Linked DNA regions of Homo sapiens. The protein of the gene in region 1 purifies or fractionates together with the protein of each later gene. This does not show direct contact. Each region holds a gene or a part of one and is shown in the gene's direction. Other genes may lie near its edges. The genes, in order: UGT2B7, CYP4F2, RBP3, GALNT10 and PXMP2.

What was found.
Region 2: the proteins of UGT2B7 (region 1) and CYP4F2 purify together in Homo sapiens (co-immunoprecipitation; one study listed by IntAct). This does not show direct contact.
Region 3: the proteins of UGT2B7 (region 1) and RBP3 purify together in Homo sapiens (co-immunoprecipitation; one study listed by IntAct). This does not show direct contact.
Region 4: the proteins of UGT2B7 (region 1) and GALNT10 purify together in Homo sapiens (co-immunoprecipitation; one study listed by IntAct). This does not show direct contact.
Region 5: the proteins of UGT2B7 (region 1) and PXMP2 purify together in Homo sapiens (co-immunoprecipitation; one study listed by IntAct). This does not show direct contact.

What each region holds. Positions count from the first base shown.
Region 1 is NC_000004.12:69,105,986-69,110,512, forward strand, and holds part of UGT2B7 (UDP-glucuronosyltransferase 2B7 isoform 1 precursor), read left to right. Parts: intron 1-1,189; coding exon 1,190-1,277; intron 1,278-2,117; coding exon 2,118-2,337; intron 2,338-4,527. UniProt on the Homo sapiens protein: UDP-glucuronosyltransferase (UGT) that catalyzes phase II biotransformation reactions in which lipophilic substrates are conjugated with glucuronic acid to increase the metabolite's water solubility, thereby facilitating excretion into either the urine or bile.
Region 2 is NC_000019.10:15,880,388-15,884,914, reverse strand, and holds part of CYP4F2 (cytochrome P450 4F2 precursor), read left to right. Parts: intron 1-4,527. UniProt on the Homo sapiens protein: A cytochrome P450 monooxygenase involved in the metabolism of various endogenous substrates, including fatty acids, eicosanoids and vitamins.
Region 3 is NC_000010.11:47,346,052-47,351,162, forward strand, and holds the start of RBP3 (retinol-binding protein 3 precursor), read left to right. Parts: upstream 1-2,311; 5' UTR 2,312-2,433; coding exon 2,434-5,111.
Region 4 is NC_000005.10:154,416,975-154,421,753, forward strand, and holds the end of GALNT10 (polypeptide N-acetylgalactosaminyltransferase 10), read left to right. Parts: 3' UTR 1-4,010; downstream 4,011-4,779. UniProt on the Homo sapiens protein: Catalyzes the initial reaction in O-linked oligosaccharide biosynthesis, the transfer of an N-acetyl-D-galactosamine residue to a serine or threonine residue on the protein receptor. Has activity toward Muc5Ac and EA2 peptide substrates.
Region 5 is NC_000012.12:132,697,130-132,701,656, forward strand, and holds part of PXMP2 (peroxisomal membrane protein 2), read left to right. Parts: intron 1-4,120; coding exon 4,121-4,240; intron 4,241-4,527. UniProt on the Homo sapiens protein: Seems to be involved in pore-forming activity and may contribute to the unspecific permeability of the peroxisomal membrane.

The sequences.
Region 1 (4,527 bases):
AGCACGCAGGTCATTACAAAATTGTTACTATTTTTTACACTAGAATTATAAGGAATAGCTAAAATTTTTATACATTTTTAGAATATTTTTAATTTTAAAAAATTAAATTAATTTAACTTTTATTTGTAACTTTTATTTTAAGTTCAAGGGGACATGTGTAGTTTTTTTACATAGGTAAACTTGTGTCATGGGGGGTTATTGTACTGTTCGTTTCATCACCCAGATATTAAGGCTAAAATCAGTTAATTATTTTTCCTGATCCTCCCACCCTCCACCCTCCAATACACCACAGTGTATGTTGTTCCTGTCTATTTGTCCACATGTTCTCATCTTTCACCTTCCACTTATAAGTGAGGACATGCCATATTTATATTTCCATCCCTTTGTTAGTTTGCTAAGGATAATGGCCTCCAGCTCCATCCATATCCCTGCAAAATACATAATTTTGTTCTTTTTTATGACTGCATAATATTCTGTAGTGTATATGTACCATATTTTCTCTATTCAGCCCATAATCAATGGGCATTTAGGTTGATTCCATGTCGTTGCTATTGTGAAAAGTACTGCAATTAATACACCTGTGCATGGGTCTTTATAAAAGAACCATTTATAGTCCGTTGGTTATATACCCAGTAATGGGATTGCTGGGTTTCATGGTATTTTTACCTCTAGGTTTTTGAGGAATCGCCAGTCTTCCACAATGGTTGAACAAACTTACATTCCCACCAACAGATTATAAGCAAGCCTTTTCTATACTACCTCACCAGTATCATGATATTTTTTGAGTTTTTAATAATAGCCATTCTGACTGGTGTGAGATGCTATCTCATTATGGTTTTGATTTGCATTTCTCTAATGATGTTAAGCTTTTTTCTTTTTTTTTTTCATATGATGGTTGGCCACACGTAGGTTTTCTTTTAAAAGGTGTAACAATTTTTTAAATGCTTGAAATTTTCATTGATAATCTGATTTTTTCTAAGGTACTATTTTGGAAAATCATGATTTCCTTATATACCTAACTAATTATAAAAGTTGAGAAAATTAATGTGAGTATTCTATTTACATTAGTCTTTGAGTAGTTCTTATTTACTAACATCCCTTGATCTCATTCCTACTCTTTATACAGTTCTCACATTCTATAACTTTTGAATTCCACTCATGGAATAAAATATTTTCTTTATTGTAACAGGTTCTGTGGAGATTTGATGGGAATAAACCAGATACCTTAGGTCTCAATACTCGGCTCTACAAGTGGATACCCCAGAATGACCTTCTAGGTAAGACTCTGGTGAACAAATACTGAATATATTAGTAACAGCACATTAGAGTGTTAATAGTTCATCATGAAACAAGCTTATTGAATATTTGTTAAGGAAAAACAAAATGTAACTTCTTTATATTGATTTTCCAGTCTTAAGGGAGAAAGAATACATTATAATTTTTGGCATTTTATGATATACACCCACATTCTTTATAGTCTGAATCGGGGGAATCTTTATTTCAGGTGTTATTATATCTCACAAAATTTTTCAATAACTTCCTGGGCTGTCTCTCTGTCTCCTATTTCTACAACTTTACACCTGTTTTTTTCCTCTCCCGCAGGGTTATTTGAAATGCCACTAAAAATAATAGCTCTTCTATCACCAGTGACTCTGTATTTTCTGAAGAATTAAACTGCTAATCTTAATCATACAGTGATGATACATTTCACGATGAAGTGTGACCTGTCCTTCCTCAATCCTAGCACCACCACCAAACCACTGCCTGCTGCCTTGCCCACCCCATATATCACACTCTGTGACTGCACTTAAAATAAGAGTTCACTTCATGCCTATCTCTTTGCTGTCTTCTTTTTTGCACATTTTTGAAATCTAGAATGCAATTTTTCATTAGCCCAACTGGAAATCTTGTATTGTTTTGCAGTCTGAAGTCACACACACCGTATAGCCTTCAGTTACATACCCAGTACAAGTACGTGTTTTTTCCTCCGAAGTCTGAAACACAATTTTAATTTAGTTCAGTGTTTTAGCTGGAAAACACTGTCACTTTCAGAGCCTTTCATTGTGCATCTCATTTTATTCCTATGAGTAATTTTGCTAAAATTCATCCAATCCTAGGTCATCCAAAGACCAGAGCTTTTATAACTCATGGTGGAGCCAATGGCATCTACGAGGCAATCTACCATGGGATCCCTATGGTGGGGATTCCATTGTTTGCCGATCAACCTGATAACATTGCTCACATGAAGGCCAGGGGAGCAGCTGTTAGAGTGGACTTCAACACAATGTCGAGTACAGACTTGCTGAATGCATTGAAGAGAGTAATTAATGATCCTTCGTGAGTAGAACAATATTTTTCACTAGGTGGTATTTACAGATAGCTTCTCTTGTCAATAGTGAGTGTGAGTTTCATCCTTTTTATAAGAGACTAATTTTGAAAGAATTTAAATGATTTAACCAATCTGAAATCTGCTTTTATTTTTATAAGTTATTTAAAAATTGAATTTGAAACACATACATCTAAAGAATAGCCAGTTAGTGAAACAATTTTCTACACAAAAATAATTTTAAAAGGATATAGATAATACAAAAAATACATTTCTTAAAAATTTGACATAATTAATCCATAGAAGAAAGGAAGAATAAACCTGAAATAATATAATAAAATATTTTAATTAGATATCTAAAACACCTCAGAGTATAACCATTTTCTTGCTGAAAAATTAACTTTTATTATTATCATTATTGTAACAGACTTGAAAATGAGATTTAATTTTGATAGCATAAAACCCCCCTGTTTATGTTATAAAATCCAAATATATTTAGTATGTTTACAGAGCCATGAAGCCATCACTATTACATAATTTTAGAACATTTTTATCAACACAAAAGAAACTGCAATGACACAGAAGTCACTTCCTATGACCGCTTAGCCCTGGTCTAACTAATTTGTTTCCTTTCTCTATAGATTATTCTCTTTAGATATTTCATATGAATGGAATCATACAGTTTAGGGTGTTGTGAAATGACATTTCACCTAGGCTAATTTTTTGTTGTTTTTTTTTTCTGGTTTTAGTTTCATTCATGTTGTTGTGTGTTTTAATACTTCATTTCTTTTTATAGCAGTTTAATATTTTTTAGTAAAGATATGTCATATTTTAGTTGTTCACTTATCAGTTCATTGGCCTTTTGATTGTTTTCAATTGTGGCTATTAGGAAGATTGCTACACATGTTTTTGCATAAACATGTTTTCCTTTCTTTAGGGTTGATACTATAAGTGGAATTGCTGCTTCATGTGGGAACTGTATGTTTATGAAGAACTGCTAAACTGTCTTCCAAAGTACTTGTTTCATTCATGACTACCACCAGCAGTACAACATGGTTCCAATTCCTCCATACTTTTGCCAAACCTGTTATTCCCTGACTTTTTGTTACAGCCTTCTTAGTGGGTGTAAAATGATCTCTCATCCTGGTCTTGGATTGCATTTTCATTACGGCTAAAGGTGTTGAGAATCTTCATACGTGCCTACTGATCATTCATATATCTTCTTTGAAAACAGTCTATCCAATCCTTGGAACATTTTTAAACTTTGCTATTTGTCTTATTATTAAGTTTAAGAACTATTTATATATTATGGGTCATGTCAGATATATAACTTGTAAATATTTTGTCCCACTCTGGGTGCACTAAATTTTACTTTTTGATGTTGGTCTTTGAAGCACAAAAAATATAATTTTAAGTTAAATTTTTAATAATTGATTTTTTCAAACCCAAAGATATCAATGTGCAAAATTCCTTGTGGAGTCCAGCTACCATCAATTCAGCATTTATAGCTACTATCAATAATGTTTTTTTATATAAGCAGGGTATCATCTAAAGGAATACTTGAAAAATACTTTATCACAAAAAAAGAAGGATAATGAATGATAAAAATACCTTTAAAGAAGATAGGAAATAATTGAAAAAGAACACAAACCAGCTTGGACAAATAGAAAAAAAATATATAAAGCAAATTGGTAGATTTAAATATGATTATACAAATACTTTCACTCAATCTAAACAGACTTTAGAAAAGAGCAAGTAATTAGTAAAGACATAAAACATTTGAAGAACACAATTAACAAATGGAATCTTATAATGTAAAATGATACAAACGCACATACATACACACACAATAAACATATATGTATCATATATATCAACTTGAAGACACATTTTCCTAGAGCATGTCGAATAGTTATCTGAAGTGATATGTGGTGGGCAATAAATCAAGATTTAGTACATATAATAAGGTTCAATATCATAAAGACTATATGATCCAGCCATAGTGGAAGTAAGGGAGGTTATAAAAACTATAACTAACATATCTTTAAATTTTAGAGATCAAGAGGTGAATCACAACTATGTCTCCACTTTTATCTCAACAATTCTACTCCCAGTTATATACCCAACAGATATGTATAAATAAATCTAATACCATATAGAAGAATATTTATGACAGAATTATCAATATTGTCCAAAAATTG
Region 2 (4,527 bases), on another chromosome or scaffold:
CAGTGTAGGGACAGGTCACATCTGGGTACCAGGAAGATCTTTCTAGGGCTAGTGTGGAGGGCGTACTGGAGAGGACCAGCTGTAGAATGAAGGCACAGTGGGGACATTCTGAGACCAGAGCCAGGCCAGGGGCTGGAGGAAGGAGAGGAAGCATTGGAATGGACGGATGTCTTGGATTCAGTGTCCTCTCGTCCACACCTTTGCCCAGCACAGCAGTCCAGTGAGGAGGAGAAACATTTTTCTGCTTTTAAAACCAATAATTTTTCTGCATTTTTAACAAACAATTTTTTATTGCTGCATAAATAGATGCACATAGATTTGAAATACATGTGATAATCTAATACATTCATATAACTGGTAAAGATCAAATCAGTGTACTTGGGATATCTGTCGCCTGAAATATTTAGTCTTTTCTTTATGCTAGAAACATAACTAACATAAGCTAACTATTTAGGAATATACAGTACATATCGTAAACTATAGTGAACCCACTGATCTATCAAGTGCTAGGTTTTATTTCTCCTATCAAACCTCTTATTTATGCCCGTTAATCAACTTCTCCTCACCCCTCCCTCCCTTCTACCAATCTACCTTCTACTTTCATGAGATCCACTTTTTCAGCTCCCACATGTGAGTGAGAACATGCGATATTTGTCTTTCTCTTTTTGGCTTATTTACTTACCACAGTGACCTCCAGTTCCATCCATGTTGCCACAAATGACAAAATTCCAGTGTTTTTAATGGTGCATAGTATTCCATTGTGTATACATGCCACATTTCCTTTCTTCCTTCCTTCCTTCCTCCCTCCCTCCCTCTCTCTCTTTCTCTCTTTCTTCTTTCCTTTCTTTCTTTCTTTGAGACAGAGTCTTGTTCTGTCGCCCAGGCTGAAGTGCGGTGGCACGATCTTGGCTCACTGCAACCTCTGCCTCCCGGGTTCAAGCTATTCTTCTGCCTCAGCCTCCCAAGCAGCTGGGACTATGGGTGCACACCACCATGCCTGGCTAATTTTTGTATTTTTAATAGGGCTGGGGTTTCACCATATTGGCCAGGCTGGTCTCGAACTCCTGACCTCATGATCTGCCTGCCTCGGCCTCCCAAAGTGCTGGGATTACAGGCATGAGCCACCGCACCCGGCCGCCACATTTTCTTTATCCATTCAGTTGATGGGCACTTAGGTTGATTCCATATTTTGGCTGTTTTGAATAGTGCTGCAATAAATACGGAAGTATAGATATCTCTTCAACAGTTTTATTTTCTTTCTTTGGGATAGAAATTTCTTCTCTTTCTTTTCAGTAGTGGAATTTCTGGGTTATATGTTAGTTCTACTTTTAGTTTCTTGAGGAACCTCTGTGCTGTTCTCTGCAGTGGCTGCGCTAATTTATATTCCTGCCAACAGTGTGTGAGAGTTCCCCTTTCTCCATATCCTCACCAGTGTCTATCGTTGCCTGTCTTTTTGATAAAAGCCATTTTAACTGGGATGAGATGATATCTCATTGTGGTTTTGATTTGCATTTCTCTGATGATTAGTGACATTGAGCATTTTTCCATCTATCTGTTGGCCATTTGTATGTCTTATTTTAAGAAATGTCTATTCAGATCTTTTGACCATTTTTAAATAAGATGATTTGAGTTCTTTTTCCCCTATTGAGTTATTTGAGCTCCTTATATAATATATTCTGGTTATTAATCGCTTGTCAGATGAGTAATTTGAGAATATTTTCTGCCATTCTGTAAGTTGATTCTTCACTTTGTTGACTGTTTCCTTTGCTGTGCAGAAGCTTTTTACCTTGATGTAATCTCATTTGTCTATTGCCTGTGCTTTTGAGGTCTTAACACAGAAAATCTTTGCCTGGACCCATGTCCTGGAGTATAAAATCCAGATTTCAAGCAAAATTATGGATGTGGTTAAAAGAAAGGGTCCAAAAAATTTTATGATAAAAATGAGCTTCCTTATTAAGCTCCACCTTAGCAGTGACTATGGTCAACAGTTTTCTGTGTATTCTTCCAGAAAATGGCTATCCCAATGCCCACATTTATATGAATTCACACTGTGATTTTTATTTATATGAACACATACTGTGTTTTTCTTTGTAAAGAAAACTATACAAAATAGACGCAGTTCTGGACATTATCTCTGAGATCTATTTTTCTTAAAATACGAGTTTTCAAAAATGAGTTTGTTTTTAAATTGTTCTTTCATTGATAAATTTTAATTATATATATTAGAGGTACAATGTGATGTTATGATGTATGTATACAACCTGAAATTATTAAATCAAGGTAATGAACAAATCCATCACTTCATATATTTATCATTTTTATGTTGAGAACATATATATATTAGAGGTACAATGTGATGTTATGATGTATGTATACAACCTGAAATTATTAAATCAAGGTAATGAACAAATCCATCACTTCATATATTTATCATTTTTATGTTGAGAACATTTGAAATTTACTCTCTTAGCAATTTCAATTAATACATTGTTCACTAAATCACCATGCTGTGCAGTAGATCTCAAAAACTATTCCTCTTGTCTAACTGAAGCTTCTATCCTTTGACCAACATCTCACCCTTCTCTATCCCTCCCTCAGCCCTGGCCTCTGGTAACCATCATTCTGCTTCTATTTCTTTTCTTTTCTTTCTTTCTTTTTTTTTTCATTTTTGAGATGGAGTCTCGCTCTGTCACCCAGGCTGGAGTGCAGTGGCACGATCTCAGCTTACTGCGACCTCTGCCTCCCAGGTTCAAGTGATTCTCCTGCCTCAGCCTCCTGAGTAGCTGGGATTACAGGCTCCCGCAACCACGCTTGGCTAATTTTTTTGTATTTTTATTAGAGACGGGGTTTCACCATATTGGACAGGCTGGTCTTGAACTCCTGACCTTGTGATCTGCCGCCCTTGGCCTCCCAAAGTGCTGGGATTACAGGCGTGAGCCACCGCGCCCGACCTCCACTCCTGTTTCTATGAGCTTGACTATTTTAGGTCCCAAGATAAGTAAGATCATGTGTGTTTGTGTTTCTGAGCCTAGCTTACTTCACTTAGCATAAGTTCCTCCAGGTTCTTTCATGTTGTGGCAAACAAAATAAGTTTTCTTTCTTTTTTTTTTTTTAAGGCTGAATGGTATTCCATTGTATATACACACCACATGGAAAATGAGCATTAAATTATAAAACCAGTGATAAGAACAGATTCTTCTTGCACCAAATGAGATATTACAGATAAGACTAGCTTTTTCCTTGACAATCCTGCCACCCCACCTAATCCTTTCTCATTCTCCAAAGGTGTCTCCAGAGCCATAGATTTGTTATCTATCTATCTATCTATCTATCTATCTATCTATCTATCCATCATCTATCTATGTATCTATATACCTATCTACTATCTATATATCATCTATGTATCTCTGTTTCTATCATCTATGTATGTATCTGTCTATTCTCTATCTCTCTATATCTCTTATTTATTATCTGTCATCTATCAATCTATCATCTATCTCTGAATCATTAATTTCATAAATATATATTCATATACTTTTTGCCCTTTTTATGTGCACAAATGTATATATTTGTAACTTGTTTTCACTCGACAGTGTGTCTTAATGCTATTTTTTTCTGAATGCTAAATATTTTATTCCTTATTTATTCAGCTCATTCCTATGTTGAATGCACATAAACATTTTCAGTTATAGTAGATATTTCCAATTTGCCTTCCACAGTGTCTGTACTGATTTACCTTCCAGCCTGCAGAATGTGATGAGACTAGTGATCCCTATTTCCTCCTTTTGTGTAGCTGTATAGTATTCCATCGTGTGGCTGTTTATCTAAACATCTTCCCATCAATGTGTATGTGGCTTGTTTCCAACCTTTTGCTAAAAGTGGACATGAGGCAGTCAGCATGTGTGCACAGTGACCATTCCTTGCATGTATAAGCATCTCTGCAGGACAAATTCCCTGAAGTGCAATTGCTGAATCAAAGAACATTTGCACTGTACAATTTTAATTATCATTGCAAATCCTTTCCTATTAGCTGAGTTTGATGGCACAAGTTTTCCCATAACTTTACCAATACTACTAATGTATTATTAAATTTTAAAATCTATGCCAATCTTCATATTTCTTCTTTTGATGGACATTGTTTTAAATAAGAGTGAGGTTGAACATCTCTTTCACGTGTTGATGTTTGTTTCTTTTTATGGAAGTGGTTCCTTTATTTTTTTGCTCTTTTTCTTTGGATTCTTTAAAAATATTTACTTTTAAGAATGTGTATTAAAATTGATTTTTTTTTTTTGAGATGCAGTCTCTATCGCCCAGGTTGGAGTGCAGTGGTGTGATCTCAGCTCACTGCAACCTCCACCTCCCAGGTTCAAGCCATTCTCTTGCCTCAGCCTCCCGAGTAGCTGGGACTACAGGTGCCCTCCACCATACCCCGCTAAGTTTTTGTATTTTTAGTAGAGACGGGGTTTCACTGTGTTAGCTAGGATGGTCTCGATCTCCTCATGTTGTGATCCACCTGCCTTAGCCTCC
Region 3 (5,111 bases), on another chromosome or scaffold:
GATGGCTTCTAAGCTACCCTGCACAGCTCTGCCCACAGGACATTTGTATAAGTGAGGGGGTGCAGGGCCTTCCAGCCCCCTCCAACTCCAAAACTCAGCCCCCAAGATCAAGTGGACTCTCTGAACCCACCCTGGCCCTACAGTTGTCAGGGTCTGGATGGGAAGATGTAGAGCTCTCGGCTTTCACTCTGGGGACTTACCCAGAACATATTCTCCTCATGAGCTAAGGAGGCTGGCTGCCATCTTCCTACATCCCCCCACGGCCTGGGGGCAAGGACACCCTGGCCCCCTGGAGTCTGGAGAACTCTGAGGACAGAACTTGCTCTTCCACCTGCTTGGGCCTTACCCACAGGAGAAGCACTGCTTCTCTACCCATGCCCCATCCAACTCAGGCACCCCAGGGACTTGCAACAGTCTGATTTTTTCTCACGTCCTTCTTAAGGCTCTGGGCTAGCCACACAAATCAAATCCCAGTGATAGGTCCAGACAATCCTATCCTGAAACTACATCTTAGTAAGACTCCAGGGAATCCTTTCCCCAAAGACAGTCTTACTCCTGTTCTCCCCCAAGCCCTTTCTGGGCCAGAAGCTTTGCCTGGACTCAAGCAATGGCAGACAAGTGCCCTCTGAGGACACGGAAGTGCATGCTCAGAACTGTGATTCTCCAAGTGGAGGCAGAGGAGAAGGCCCAGGCTTCCCAGCAGGGCTAAGGATATGCAAGGAGTGCATTCATCCGGAGGTGTTGGCAGCATCCCAGCCCCACCCCATTCTCATCGTAAATCAGGCTCACTTCCATTGGCTGCATACGGTGGAGTGATGTGACCATATGTCACTTGAGCATTACACAAATCCTAATGAGCTAAAAATATGTTTGTTTTAGCTAATTGACCTCTTTGGCCTTCATAAAGCAGTTGGTAAACATCCTCAGATAATGATTTCCAAAGAGCAGATTGTGGGTCTCAGCTGTGTAGAGAAAGCCCACGTCCCTGAGACCACCTTCTCCAGCTGCCTACTGAGGCACACAGGGGCGCCTGCCTGCTGCCCGCTCAGCCAAGGCGGTGTTGCTGGAGCCAGCTTGGGACAGCTCTCCCAACGCTCTGCCCTGGCCTTGCGACCACTCTCTGGGCCGTAGTTGTCTGTCTGTTAAGTGAGGAAAGTGCCCATCTCCAGAGGCATTCAGCGGCAAAGCAGGGCTTCCAGGTTCCGACCCCATAGCAGGACTTCTTGGATTTCTACAGCCAGTCAGTTGCAAGCAGCACCCACATTATTTCTATAAGAAGTGGCAGGAGCTGGGATCTGAAGAGTTCAGCAGTCTACCTTTCCCTGTTTCTTGTGCTTTATGCAGTCAGGAGGAATGATCTGGATTCCATGTGAAGCCTGGGACCACGGAGACCCAAGACTTCCTGCTTGATTCTCCCTGCGAACTGCAGGCTGTGGGCTGAGCCTTCAAGAAGCAGGAGTCCCCTCTAGCCATTAACTCTCAGAGCTAACCTCATTTGAATGGGAACACTAGTCCTGTGATGTCTGGAAGGTGGGCGCCTCTACACTCCACACCCTACATGGTGGTCCAGACACATCATTCCCAGCATTAGAAAGCTGTAGGGGGACCCGTTCTGTTCCCTGGAGGCATTAAAGGGACATAGAAATAAATCTCAAGCTCTGAGGCTGATGCCAGCCTCAGACTCAGCCTCTGCACTGTATGGGCCAATTGTAGCCCCAAGGACTTCTTCTTGCTGCACCCCCTATCTGTCCACACCTAAAACGATGGGCTTCTATTAGTTACAGAACTCTCTGGCCTGTTTTGTTTTGCTTTGCTTTGTTTTGTTTTGTTTTTTTGTTTTTTTGTTTTTTAGCTATGAAACAGAGGTAATATCTAATACAGATAACTTACCAGTAATGAGTGCTTCCTACTTACTGGGTACTGGGAAGAAGTGCTTTACACATATTTTCTCATTTAATCTACACAATAAGTAATTAAGACATTTCCCTGAGGCCACGGGAGAGACAGTGGCAGAACAGTTCTCCAAGGAGGACTTGCAAGTTAATAACTGGACTTTGCAAGGCTCTGGTGGAAACTGTCAGCTTGTAAAGGATGGAGCACAGTGTCTGGCATGTAGCAGGAACTAAAATAATGGCAGTGATTAATGTTATGATATGCAGACACAACACAGCAAGATAAGATGCAATGTACCTTCTGGGTCAAACCACCCTGGCCACTCCTCCCCGATACCCAGGGTTGATGTGCTTGAATTAGACAGGATTAAAGGCTTACTGGAGCTGGAAGCCTTGCCCCAACTCAGGAGTTTAGCCCCAGACCTTCTGTCCACCAGCTGAGAAGGACAAGGGCGGAAGGCAGCTGCACAGAGCAGGGCCACGGCCTTGCACACAGTCCAGGGAGCTTTTGTGCAGGAGCCAGGCCTCCCCCTGGGTCCCCATGATGAGAGAATGGGTTCTGCTCATGTCCGTGCTGCTCTGTGGCCTGGCTGGCCCCACACACCTGTTCCAGCCAAGCCTGGTGCTGGACATGGCCAAGGTCCTCTTGGATAACTACTGCTTCCCGGAGAACCTGCTGGGCATGCAGGAAGCCATCCAGCAGGCCATCAAGAGCCATGAGATTCTGAGCATCTCAGACCCGCAGACGCTGGCCAGTGTGCTGACAGCCGGGGTGCAGAGCTCCCTGAACGATCCTCGCCTGGTCATCTCCTATGAGCCCAGCACCCCCGAGCCTCCCCCACAAGTCCCAGCACTCACCAGCCTCTCAGAAGAGGAACTGCTTGCCTGGCTGCAAAGGGGCCTCCGCCATGAGGTTCTGGAGGGTAATGTGGGCTACCTGCGGGTGGACAGCGTCCCGGGCCAGGAGGTGCTGAGCATGATGGGGGAGTTCCTGGTGGCCCACGTGTGGGGGAATCTCATGGGCACCTCCGCCTTAGTGCTGGATCTCCGGCACTGCACAGGAGGCCAGGTCTCTGGCATTCCCTACATCATCTCCTACCTGCACCCAGGGAACACCATCCTGCACGTGGACACTATCTACAACCGCCCCTCCAACACCACCACGGAGATCTGGACCTTGCCCCAGGTCCTGGGAGAAAGGTACGGTGCCGACAAGGATGTGGTGGTCCTCACCAGCAGCCAGACCAGGGGCGTGGCCGAGGACATCGCGCACATCCTTAAGCAGATGCGCAGGGCCATCGTGGTGGGCGAGCGGACTGGGGGAGGGGCCCTGGACCTCCGGAAGCTGAGGATAGGCGAGTCTGACTTCTTCTTCACGGTGCCCGTGTCCAGGTCCCTGGGGCCCCTTGGTGGAGGCAGCCAGACGTGGGAGGGCAGCGGGGTGCTGCCCTGTGTGGGGACTCCGGCCGAGCAGGCCCTGGAGAAAGCCCTGGCCATCCTCACTCTGCGCAGCGCCCTTCCAGGGGTAGTCCACTGCCTCCAGGAGGTCCTGAAGGACTACTACACGCTGGTGGACCGTGTGCCCACCCTGCTGCAGCACTTGGCCAGCATGGACTTCTCCACGGTGGTCTCCGAGGAAGATCTGGTCACCAAGCTCAATGCCGGCCTGCAGGCTGCGTCTGAGGATCCCAGGCTCCTGGTGCGAGCCATCGGGCCCACAGAAACTCCTTCTTGGCCCGCGCCCGACGCTGCAGCCGAAGACTCACCAGGGGTGGCCCCAGAGTTGCCTGAGGACGAGGCTATCCGGCAAGCACTGGTGGACTCTGTGTTCCAGGTGTCGGTGCTGCCAGGCAATGTGGGCTACCTGCGCTTCGATAGTTTTGCTGACGCCTCCGTCCTGGGTGTGTTGGCCCCATATGTCCTGCGCCAGGTGTGGGAGCCGCTACAGGACACGGAGCACCTCATCATGGACCTGCGCCACAACCCTGGAGGGCCATCCTCTGCTGTGCCCCTGCTCCTGTCCTACTTCCAGGGCCCTGAGGCCGGCCCCGTGCACCTCTTCACCACCTATGATCGCCGCACCAACATCACGCAGGAGCACTTCAGCCACATGGAGCTCCCGGGCCCACGCTACAGCACCCAACGTGGGGTGTATCTGCTCACCAGCCACCGCACCGCCACGGCCGCGGAGGAGTTCGCCTTCCTTATGCAGTCGCTGGGCTGGGCCACACTGGTAGGTGAGATCACCGCGGGCAACCTGCTGCACACCCGCACGGTGCCGCTGCTGGACACACCCGAAGGCAGCCTCGCGCTCACCGTGCCGGTCCTCACCTTCATCGACAATCACGGCGAGGCCTGGCTGGGTGGTGGAGTGGTGCCCGATGCCATCGTGCTGGCCGAGGAGGCCCTGGACAAAGCCCAGGAAGTGCTGGAGTTCCACCAAAGCCTGGGGGCCTTGGTGGAGGGCACAGGGCACCTGCTGGAGGCCCACTATGCTCGGCCAGAGGTCGTGGGGCAGACCAGTGCCCTCCTGCGGGCCAAGCTGGCCCAGGGCGCCTACCGCACAGCTGTGGACTTGGAGTCTCTGGCCTCTCAGCTCACAGCAGACCTCCAGGAGGTGTCTGGGGACCACCGCTTGCTAGTGTTCCACAGCCCTGGCGAGCTGGTGGTAGAGGAAGCACCCCCACCACCCCCTGCTGTCCCCTCTCCAGAGGAGCTCACCTACCTTATTGAGGCCCTGTTCAAGACAGAGGTGCTGCCCGGCCAGCTGGGCTACCTGCGTTTTGACGCCATGGCTGAACTGGAGACAGTGAAGGCCGTGGGGCCACAGCTGGTGCGGCTGGTATGGCAACAGCTGGTGGACACGGCTGCGCTGGTGATCGACCTGCGCTACAACCCTGGCAGCTACTCCACGGCCATCCCGCTGCTCTGCTCCTACTTCTTTGAGGCAGAGCCCCGCCAGCACCTGTATTCTGTCTTTGACAGGGCCACCTCAAAAGTCACGGAGGTGTGGACCTTGCCCCAGGTCGCCGGCCAGCGCTACGGCTCACACAAGGACCTCTACATCCTGATGAGCCACACCAGTGGCTCTGCGGCCGAGGCCTTTGCACACACCATGCAGGACCTGCAGCGGGCCACGGTCATTGGGGAGCCCACGGCCGGAGGCGCACTCTCTGTGGGCATCTACCAGGTGGGCAGCAGCCCCTTATATGCATCCAT
Region 4 (4,779 bases), on another chromosome or scaffold:
CCTCATGTCCCCTTGGCAGGCCCCCCAGGGTCTGGCACTCACTGCAGACTTCCTCTTTCAAGGGAGGCAGGGCCCCTGTGGGCACTAGGTGTAAAAGGTGCTGGCCAAATGGTTCAGGGTGAAGAGGGCTCTTGATTCAGGGGCTGGGGTCTGCCTGGTCCTTGAGCCCCTGAGTTGTGGGGGTAGGGTGAAGAGCATATCCCACAAGAGGCCCCACAGGGAGCAGAGACTGCTTTAATCCCTGCTGACATCACGGAAAAGCAACAGAGCCTTTTCAACTTTGTCACTATGTCCCCTTGAACATTATGTGGGAGAACACCAAGGTAGCCTAGGCCACCCAAAAGTGAGTCCTGCGAGGTTGCCCAGCCCTCAGATGGCTCTCCTACATGATGGTGCTTTAGAAACAAAGGTAAAATTTGCCTGTTTGGGGCAGCTTTTAGTATCGATGCCACTCATCTGCAGCAGAAGAGAAAGAAGTCCTCTTGGGGCTTTTTAGTTTCTGCCGTCCTGGGGGGAACATTGCAGTTACTGCACAGCTTCTGTTCTCTGTCACAACCCCAGGTGATTTGGTCCGGTCAAAGGCCATACTTGGGGCCCTAAGAGTGTTCAGTATTGAATGCTGATCAGCTGCCAGGTGAGGAGTCAGAAGAGGGAGCCCCCCTAGACATTTCTTTGCAGCTATGGACATGCGGGATATCTCCCCCTGCTCTCTGGGTATTTGAAATGTCAATTTTAGCACTCTCCAGGCACAAGGACAGCCCAGCACCAGCTTTACAGGGCAGTGTTTCAGATGGCCCTGAGCCCACGGAAAAGGCCAGGTAGACCTCCAAACTAGAAATGCTGGCTGATTTGCCCTGATCCATGCTTCCATTTCCCTGTCTCTCTTCCCCAGGCAATTACTGGCCTCAAAAGAGGAACAGAGGTGCTGCGAGGTGCTCACCTCACAGAGTCTGGAGGCCTCCAGGATCAACTGTGGGCAAAGTGCCTGCCTCTGACCTCATCATGGTTCTAGTTCTCATACAGAACTCCAGAATTTTTAAAGAACTCTATAATTGGATTGCAAACTAGGATGCTACATAGGATTCTGGTATTCCACATCCAATATGGATTTCTAGAATGCTGTGATTAAAGGAGCCAGCCAGGTGTAATACAGTCAAGGCAGCCCCCAGCCTAGAGACAATCTGTGAAATCCAAAGTTGGTGGTGTTGGGAAAGCAGGGGGACATGTGTCCCTCAGCTCAGCAGAGGCTGTGGTACAACATGGTCCTTGGTGAAGACCTGCACCCCTGGAACCTCCCACCATCATCACAACTGTAGTCTCATTTGCAGTGGAGAAAAGAACCCGACGTCCCACAGCCAGATATACACCCAGCTCCATGCCAGCCCTTCATGTTTACCTTTTGCTTTGTTAATTACATGTCAGACTCCTAGAGGGCCTCCAGACTAATAGGAAGCATTTCTGTAACCAACCTGCCACCCACTGATTCAGAAATGGAAATCACATTCCACAATCTATGGCTTCCACCAGCTAGCCCAGGAAATACTTGAAATCAGCATTCCAATTAGTGTTGAGTCTCTTGATTGTGTCATTTACCAATTAAATAACTGAGACCTAAGTCTGGGAACAGAGCCACGAATCTGCCTTTGAGATGCTGGCAGATCTCAAGGCCATCAATTATTGGGGGAGGGAGGGACAAACACTCCCAATCATCCACCAGTCAGACTGAATGTGTAGCTGGCGAGGAATTACTTCCACTTCTGGCCCAGCACAAGCCCTGCTTTGGCCACCTGTCTGCAAGAGAGGCGGCCCCTGTGCTTGCAACGCTTACGTGTTGATCCCAGTGTCCTTTTCCAAATGAGTGCTGTAGCTTTAGAAGTGGCCCTCTATAGAAAGAAGTCAAAAGATGAGGCCCCTTCTAGAATCTAGGATAACAAGAGTGTTGACAGTTTGAGGAGTCGAATTGAGATTCATCATCAAAGAGCAATGCAGCGTCGTTAAAATAAAAACTGTGCCTTTTAAAAAGAAAAATGCAAATATAGAGCAAATCCCTAAACTTGAACCATTTCCTAGTGCCTTGCTAGACAAACATAAAGGGGCAGGGTTGTGGGGAGGGGAACGTTTTTGGTGGTGTGTGCAGTTCCTACTGGATGAGTGTGTGTTTCTTAATGTCTCATTTCAAGCAGGAGATGTTGGGTCTGGAGCAAGATCTGAGACTGAGATGTCCCCCAAGGGTGACAGGTCAGATTTATTTCAGTCAGTGCAAGTCACACTCCAAACTAAAGGCTGGGCAGTGCGTTTAGTCTGTGGCCTAGAAGACCTCATCAGCCCCCGAGAGGAGGCCTTGCATTACCTCACTGGGACCTGTTTGGGGGCCATCCCTGCGGTCCACCCTCTGAACCCCCAGCATGTTTGTCCTGTTTCTCACCATTGGGTTAAGGGGTGCCGAGCACTAGCTAGACTTCCACATAGTCCCACCCCAAGTGGGCGGCAGTGTTCCTGGCATGACCAGGATTCCTGTGAAAGCAGGAGCAGCAGCAAGCCGTCCCGGGCCTGCCTTTCCCATCCTTTGGTTCTCCTTTCCAGTCTGGGTTCACACCCTGAAAAGGGATGGGTGTGTCCTCTGAGCACTCTGGCATTTGTCATTGCTGAGCCCATATCAGTAGGTCCTGGGACTTGACAAAGTATGTGGGAGGGGAAGGAAGGACAGAACTTGACTGGCTCCATTTCATGGACCAACTGATCAATTGCCAGTACTAAGCCACTCATTGTTATGGCTTCCTTTTTGAAAACCACCTGTCTCAAGGATTCAGGTTTCTGCTCACATCCCCAGCTGATGCTCAATAAAACTCAGCCAGGAGCATATGGAGATGCTGACAGCCAGGTAATGGGTGAGACTGTGGGGTCCCTTTTCCTCTAAAGCCTTTACTCTGAGGATAAGGTCACAAAGTAGGGTGTGACTTGAAAGTATCGTGACCATGTGGCCCACCAGCAGCCTTTCCAAAGGGGAACTCCAGAGACATTTCATAATGCAAACAGCACTGTTGCTTTAAGAACAAGGCCTTTGGAGGTGGCTAAACTTGCACGCACGTGTGTGAAAAGCCATCCCATCTTCTGCCTCCAGTTGGAGCTTTCAGCTGTTAAAACAGTCAGAAACTATTGATTCTTCCCTTTAGGAAAAAATGCTCAGGCAGAACGGGGTACATCCACAGGAGGAATCGGACGAGAGGATGTGACATTCGGTCCAGGAGAGAAAGAGCAGTTTCTGTTAAAGATGTAACAAATGGATTTCCAAAGTCTACATGACATTCACTTTTCAAACTTCCCACCAGTTGAATTTCTTTTTTTCCTTAAGAAACAGGTGATGTCTTGGAAAACAGCTCCTTATGTCTCTCTGTGCATCTCCATTTTCCTAGTCTCTGGAGTCTCAAAAAGAGTGGCAAAGCACTTTACAGTAGTAACTGAGGAATCAGAGTCTCTGCTTCAGCGATATCTAGTTTGTACAGTTGGGTGATCTTTTGTAATTCCTAGGAGGTAATGCATTTTTAATGTTTTCTGAAGCTTTGTAAGTGTGAGAGAGGGACAAGAAGTGCAGTTCTGTTCTGGAATTCCTTATTGCTTTCAACGGACACTCTTTGTGAAAAATCCAAGTAATATTTTAGTTCAAACTTGATCTTGAGCCAAGGCCCACTGCCACCTCTGGGATGGGAGTCGGACCTACATACCAAGTGACAAGTTCACCTTAACATCTGCTTCCAGAATGGCTTTGATTCAGCCGTGCCAGGCAACAGAACAGGGTCAGACTCCTGCTCTGTTATTGGCTTGAAGACTAGGATCCCAAAGGGGTTGGAGGCAGGGAATATTTGAAAATTCAGACTGGAATTCCAGGCCAAAAGCTCAAGACCACCAGCCTCTCCTCCTGCCTGGAAAAATAAGCCTTTGTGAAAGACTGATTTACCATGTACAATTGTGATTGTGAACGTTGTTGAGTAAACCTCCAGACTTTCTCTAAAGTGGTCTCTGCCTTCTTCCTTCTCATGTGTCATTCTTCTTTTCATCATTCTTCACGTAGACCACCTACTTCGGACTCAGGCATTCTGCTGGGTACTAAAAACTCCCAACAGCCATCATTCTAGAGTGAAAGGCAGACCTAAAACAACTAAGATGATTTCAGATGCAAATAGGGCTATGAAGGGTATAAAGCAATGATATATTAGAGACTGGAGTGGGGGTCAACGTTAGCTAGAATGGTGAGAGCTGAAAGACATGAAGGAGGGTGAACCAAGATGATTTCCCGGAACAGAGTTCCAGGCAGAGGGAACAGCTAGTGCAAAGGCCCTGAGGTAAGTAGAAGTTTCTGTGTTGGAGGAGCAGAAGGAGGTTAGCTTGAAGAGTTACGTGGGGCAGCCCACAAAGGGTCACACCCAGGAGCGGAGGATCTCAGGAGGGCAGTGACAATATGAAATAAGCATAACTTTTTTTTTTGATGGGGTCTCCCTCTGTCACCCAGGCTGGAGTGCAGTGGCACTCATAGTTTACTGCAGCCTTCAACTTGTGGGCTCAAGTGATCCTCCCACTTCAGCCTCCCTAGTAGCTGGTACCACAGACACACACCACCATGCCCATCTAATTTTTTTTATTTTTTGTAGAGATGGAGTCTTGCTATGTTACCCAGATTGTTCTTGACCTCCTGGCCTCAAACAGTCCTCCTGCCTCAGCCTCCCAAAGTGCTGAAATTACAGGCATGAGCCACCACACCCAGCTGTAACTCATTTCTGATGC
Region 5 (4,527 bases), on another chromosome or scaffold:
TAAAAAATGAGCCAGTGTGGTGATGTGCACCTGTAGTTCCAGCTGTTTGGGAGGCTGAGGTGAGAAGATCCCTTGAGCCCAAGATGTGGAGGCTGCAGTGAGCAGAGATCACACCACTGCACTCCAGCCTGGGTAACAGAGCAAGACACTGGTTCAAAAGACAAAAATAAATAAATAAATAAATAAACACATTAGTCTGTCAAAATTTTTTCTGAATATTTTGATAACTGTATTTCAGTATTATTGGTTCCTTTGTAGTCCTATTTTATTTATTTATTTATTTATTTTTTATTTTTGAGGCAGAATCTCGCCCTGTTGCCCAGGCTGGAGTGCAGTGGTGCGATTTCAGCTCACTGCAACCTCTGCCTCCCGGGTTCAAACGATTCTCCTGCCTCAGCCTCCTGAGTAGCTGGGATTACAGGAGCCCGCTACCACACCCAGCTTATTTTTGTATTTTTAGTAGAGATGGGGTTTCACCATGTTGGCCAGGCTTGTCTTGAACTCCTGACCTCGTGATCCGCCTGCCTTGGCCTCCCAAAGTGCTGGGATTACAAGCGTGAGCCACTGCGCCCAGCCGTATTTTATTTTATAGATTACAAAACATTCTGAGAAGGGGGTCCACAGGCTTCACTAAACTGCCAAAGAGATCTGTGGCACAAGAAGTTTGAGACCCCTACTGATAACACAGAAGAGTTCCGGGCCTGGAGGTTAACCTACCGGCATAATCCCAGTCAGAATCCAACGCATGGGAGGCGTGTTCACCTGCACTCAGCAGGTGTGTCTGTTCTGACTGTCCCACCTCCCCCGTTCACGAGCACCTTCAAATCCTCACCATCTCTAGGAGCACCAGCCAGGTTGTGCTGTGTGTCTGAGACGTGTCACCTTTTTTTTTTTTTTTTTGAGACGGAGTCTCACACTGTTGCCCAGGCTGGAGTGTAGTGCGTGATCTCAGCTCACTGCAACCTTCGCCTCTTGGGTTCAAGCAATTCTCTGCCTCAGCCTCCCAAATAGCTGGGATTGCAGGTGCCCGCCACCATGCCCGGCTAATTGTTTTGTGTTTTTAGTAGAGACGGGGTTTCACCATCTTGGCCAGGTTGGTATTGAACTCCTGACCTCGTGATCCACCCGCCTCGGTCTCTCAAAGTGCTAGGATTACAGGTGTGAGCCACTGCACCTGGCGTCACCTTCTGTCCTGAAAGTAAATTTGTTTTAACCATTCACTTCTCCATACAGAAGTTATAAAGGTTCATGTATTCAAACATGACATTATTCTCCTTCATGCCTTTCCTTACAGGAAGATAATAGAAATATTCTCCTCTGCTTTCCTCCGGTATTCTTATGGTTTTACTTGTGTACAGTAGGAGATAGACTTCTGTGTTGATTTTTCCACTTACATAGCAAATTTTCTCATTACCATTTATTGGGCAATCCCCAGTATTTTGAAATATTCTCATTTCCATCTGTACAGGCAATTATCTGCACTCTTTGTTCTTTTGCTGGATTATTTTCTTTTTTTTGAGATGGAGTCTCACTCTCGCCCAGGCTGGAGTGTGGTGGCACAATATCGGCTCACTGCAACCTCCGCCTCTCGGGTTCAAGTGATTTTCATGTCTCAGCCTCCAGAGTAGCTGGGACAACAGGCGCCCACCACCACGCCTGGCTAATTTTTGTATTTTTAGTAGCAATGGGGTTCCTCTGTGTTGGCCAGGCTGGTCTTGAACTCCTGGCCTCAAGTGATATGCCCACCTTGGCATTACAGGCATGAGCCACTGTACCCAGCTTCTCCCCCTTACTTTAAACAAGAAAATATTTAAGCATTTCTTTAAAAATTTTTTTTAGTTTGTATATATTTAGAGGGTACGAGTGCAGATTTCTTATGTGACTGTGCTGTGGTGAAGTCTGAGCTTTTACTTCCCATCACCCAAGTAGTCAGTGGTGATTTTCAACCCTCTTCTCCCCGCCACCTTTTCAAGTCTCTGGTGTCTGTTATTTCCCTCTGTTGGTCCATGTATACCCACTGTTTAGCCACCACTTATGAGTGAGAACATCGGCTGAGGCAGGAAGGTCACTTGAACCCAGGATGTCGAGACCAGCCTGGGCAACAGAGTGAGACCCCTTCTCTACAAAAAAATTAAAAATCAAAGGGTTGTGGTGGCACATGGCTGTAGTCCCAGCTACTCAGGAGGCTGAGACGGAGGCTTGATGTCAGGAGGTTGAGGCCAAGTGAGCCGACATCACGCCACTGCACTCCAGCCAGCATGGGCAACAGAGTGAGATGGCGAGACCCTGTCTTGGAAAAAAAAAGTGAGAACATGCAGTGTTTGACTTTCCATTGGTGAGTTGTTTCACTTGGGATAATGGCCCCCGGTTCAATCGACGTCACTGCAAAAGACATGCTTTTTTTTTTTTTTTTTTTTTTGACACAGAGTCTCGCTCTTTCATCCAGGCTGGAGTGTAGTGGCGCAATCTCATCTCACTGCAACCTCCGCCCCCCAGGTTCAACGATTTTCCTGCCTCAGCCTCCCAAAGTGCTGAGATTACAGGCGTGAGCCACCGTGCGCGGCCGAGTTCATTCTTTTTTTTATAGCAGAGTAGTGTTCCGTGGTGTATTTATGGCACTTTTTCTTTATCCAGTCCTCTGTTGGGGGACGTTTAGGTTGATTCCACGTGTTTGCTGTTGTGGATAGCGCTGTGATAAACACACGAGGGCAGGGATTGTTTGATATGATTCCTTTTCCTTTGGGTAGAGGCCCAGTAGTGGGATTGCTGGATCGAATGGTGGTTCTATTTTCAGGTCTTTGAGAAATTTCCATACTGTTTTCCAGAAGGGCTGTACTAATTTGCATTCCCACCAGCAGTGTGTAAGTGTTCACTTTTCTCCACATTCTTGCCAGCATCTATTGTTTTTTGACCTTTTTTTTTTTTTTTTTGAGGCAGAGTTTCACTGTGTCAGCCAGGCTGGAGTGCAGTGGCACGATCTCGGCTCACCGCAACCTCCGCCTCCCGGGTTCAAGTGATTCTCCTGCCTCAGCCTCCTGAGTAGCTGGGATTACAGGCACACGCCACCATGCCCAACTAATTTTTGTATTTTTTTTTTTTGGTAGAGACAGGGTTTTCCCATGTTGGTCAGGCTGGTCTCAAACTGCTGACCTCGTGATCCGCCCACCTCAGCCTCCCAAAGTGCTTAAATTACGGTCATGAGCCACCGCGCCTGGCCACTTGACTTTTTAATAATAGCCATTCTGACTCGCGTGAGGTGGTATCTCCTTGTGGTTTTAATTTGCATTTCTCTGATGATTAGTGATGTTGAACATTTTTTCATATGTTTCTTGGCCACTTGTTTTTCTTCTTTTGAAAAATGTTTGTATCCGTTGCCCACTTTTTTAATGAGGTTATTCATTTCTTTCTTGTTGAGTTGTGTAAGTTCCTCACAGATTCTGGATAACAGTCCTTTGTAGGATGCATAATATGCATATATTTTTTCCCAGGCTGTAGACTGTCTGTTGATTGTTTCTTTTGCTGTGCAGAAGCTTTTTTGTTTAATGAAGTCCTGTTTGTCTGTTTTTGGTTTTGCTGTATTTGCTTTTGAGCACTTAGTCACAAATTCTTTGTCTTGGCGGACGTCCAGAGGAATTGCTCCTAGGATCTTTATGGTGTCAGGTCTTGGGTTCAGGTCTTGAATCCACCAGCTGACATTTAGAATGAACTTACTGGAGTCCTTTTTTTTTTTTTTTCATAACTCCTAACAAGTTTTGATTGGAAAGACATCGACTTTGGAGGTTATTTGGGAGGAATTGACAGCGTAGCTCTGAGTAGCAGTTCTGGTGCCCAGGGCCAGCCTTGGGAGTCACCTCCTCCAGTTGTCCGCAAGGAGTTTTGGGCCAGGACAGACATCACTGCCAGCATGAGCAGGCTGCTGTCTGGCATCTCACTGATCATTTTCCATCTTGCTGGTTGGCTCCTTAGAGCCGCAGTGCTGAGTACACATGTGTGCTGTCTGCGTACACACAGAACAAAATCCAATAGCAGTTTAAAAACCATCACGATAGGGTCTGGGTGCCCGGAATTCAGTTCTGATGGGCAGTGAGACTGTTCACCACCCGCCTTCCCTCCTTTGCAGGGGAAAGACGCCTCAGCCTTCGCCGCCAAGATGAGGGGGGGCTTCTGGCCGGCGCTGAGGATGAACTGGCGGGTGTGGACGCCACTACAGTTCATCAACATCAACTACGTCCCTCTGAAGGTGAGGGCCACGGGGCTCAGCCTCTGCTAACATTACTTTGTCAGCCTTTTCCTTCCTTCCTTCCTTCCTCTTTCCTCCCCCCCTCCCTCCCCTCTTCTTTTCTCTTCTCTTCTTTCTTTGGTAGTTTTCCGCTAGACTTAGTTTCATCCGTGTCTAGACTCCTCAACTACCCTTGGATTTTGCCCATGACCCTGAATCATTGCTAGTTCGGGATTCAGGAAGCAACAGAGAAGGGTGTCCCGAGTGGTCGTCTTTGCCTCTTCTGTTCGTTCAGCAAATTCTCATTA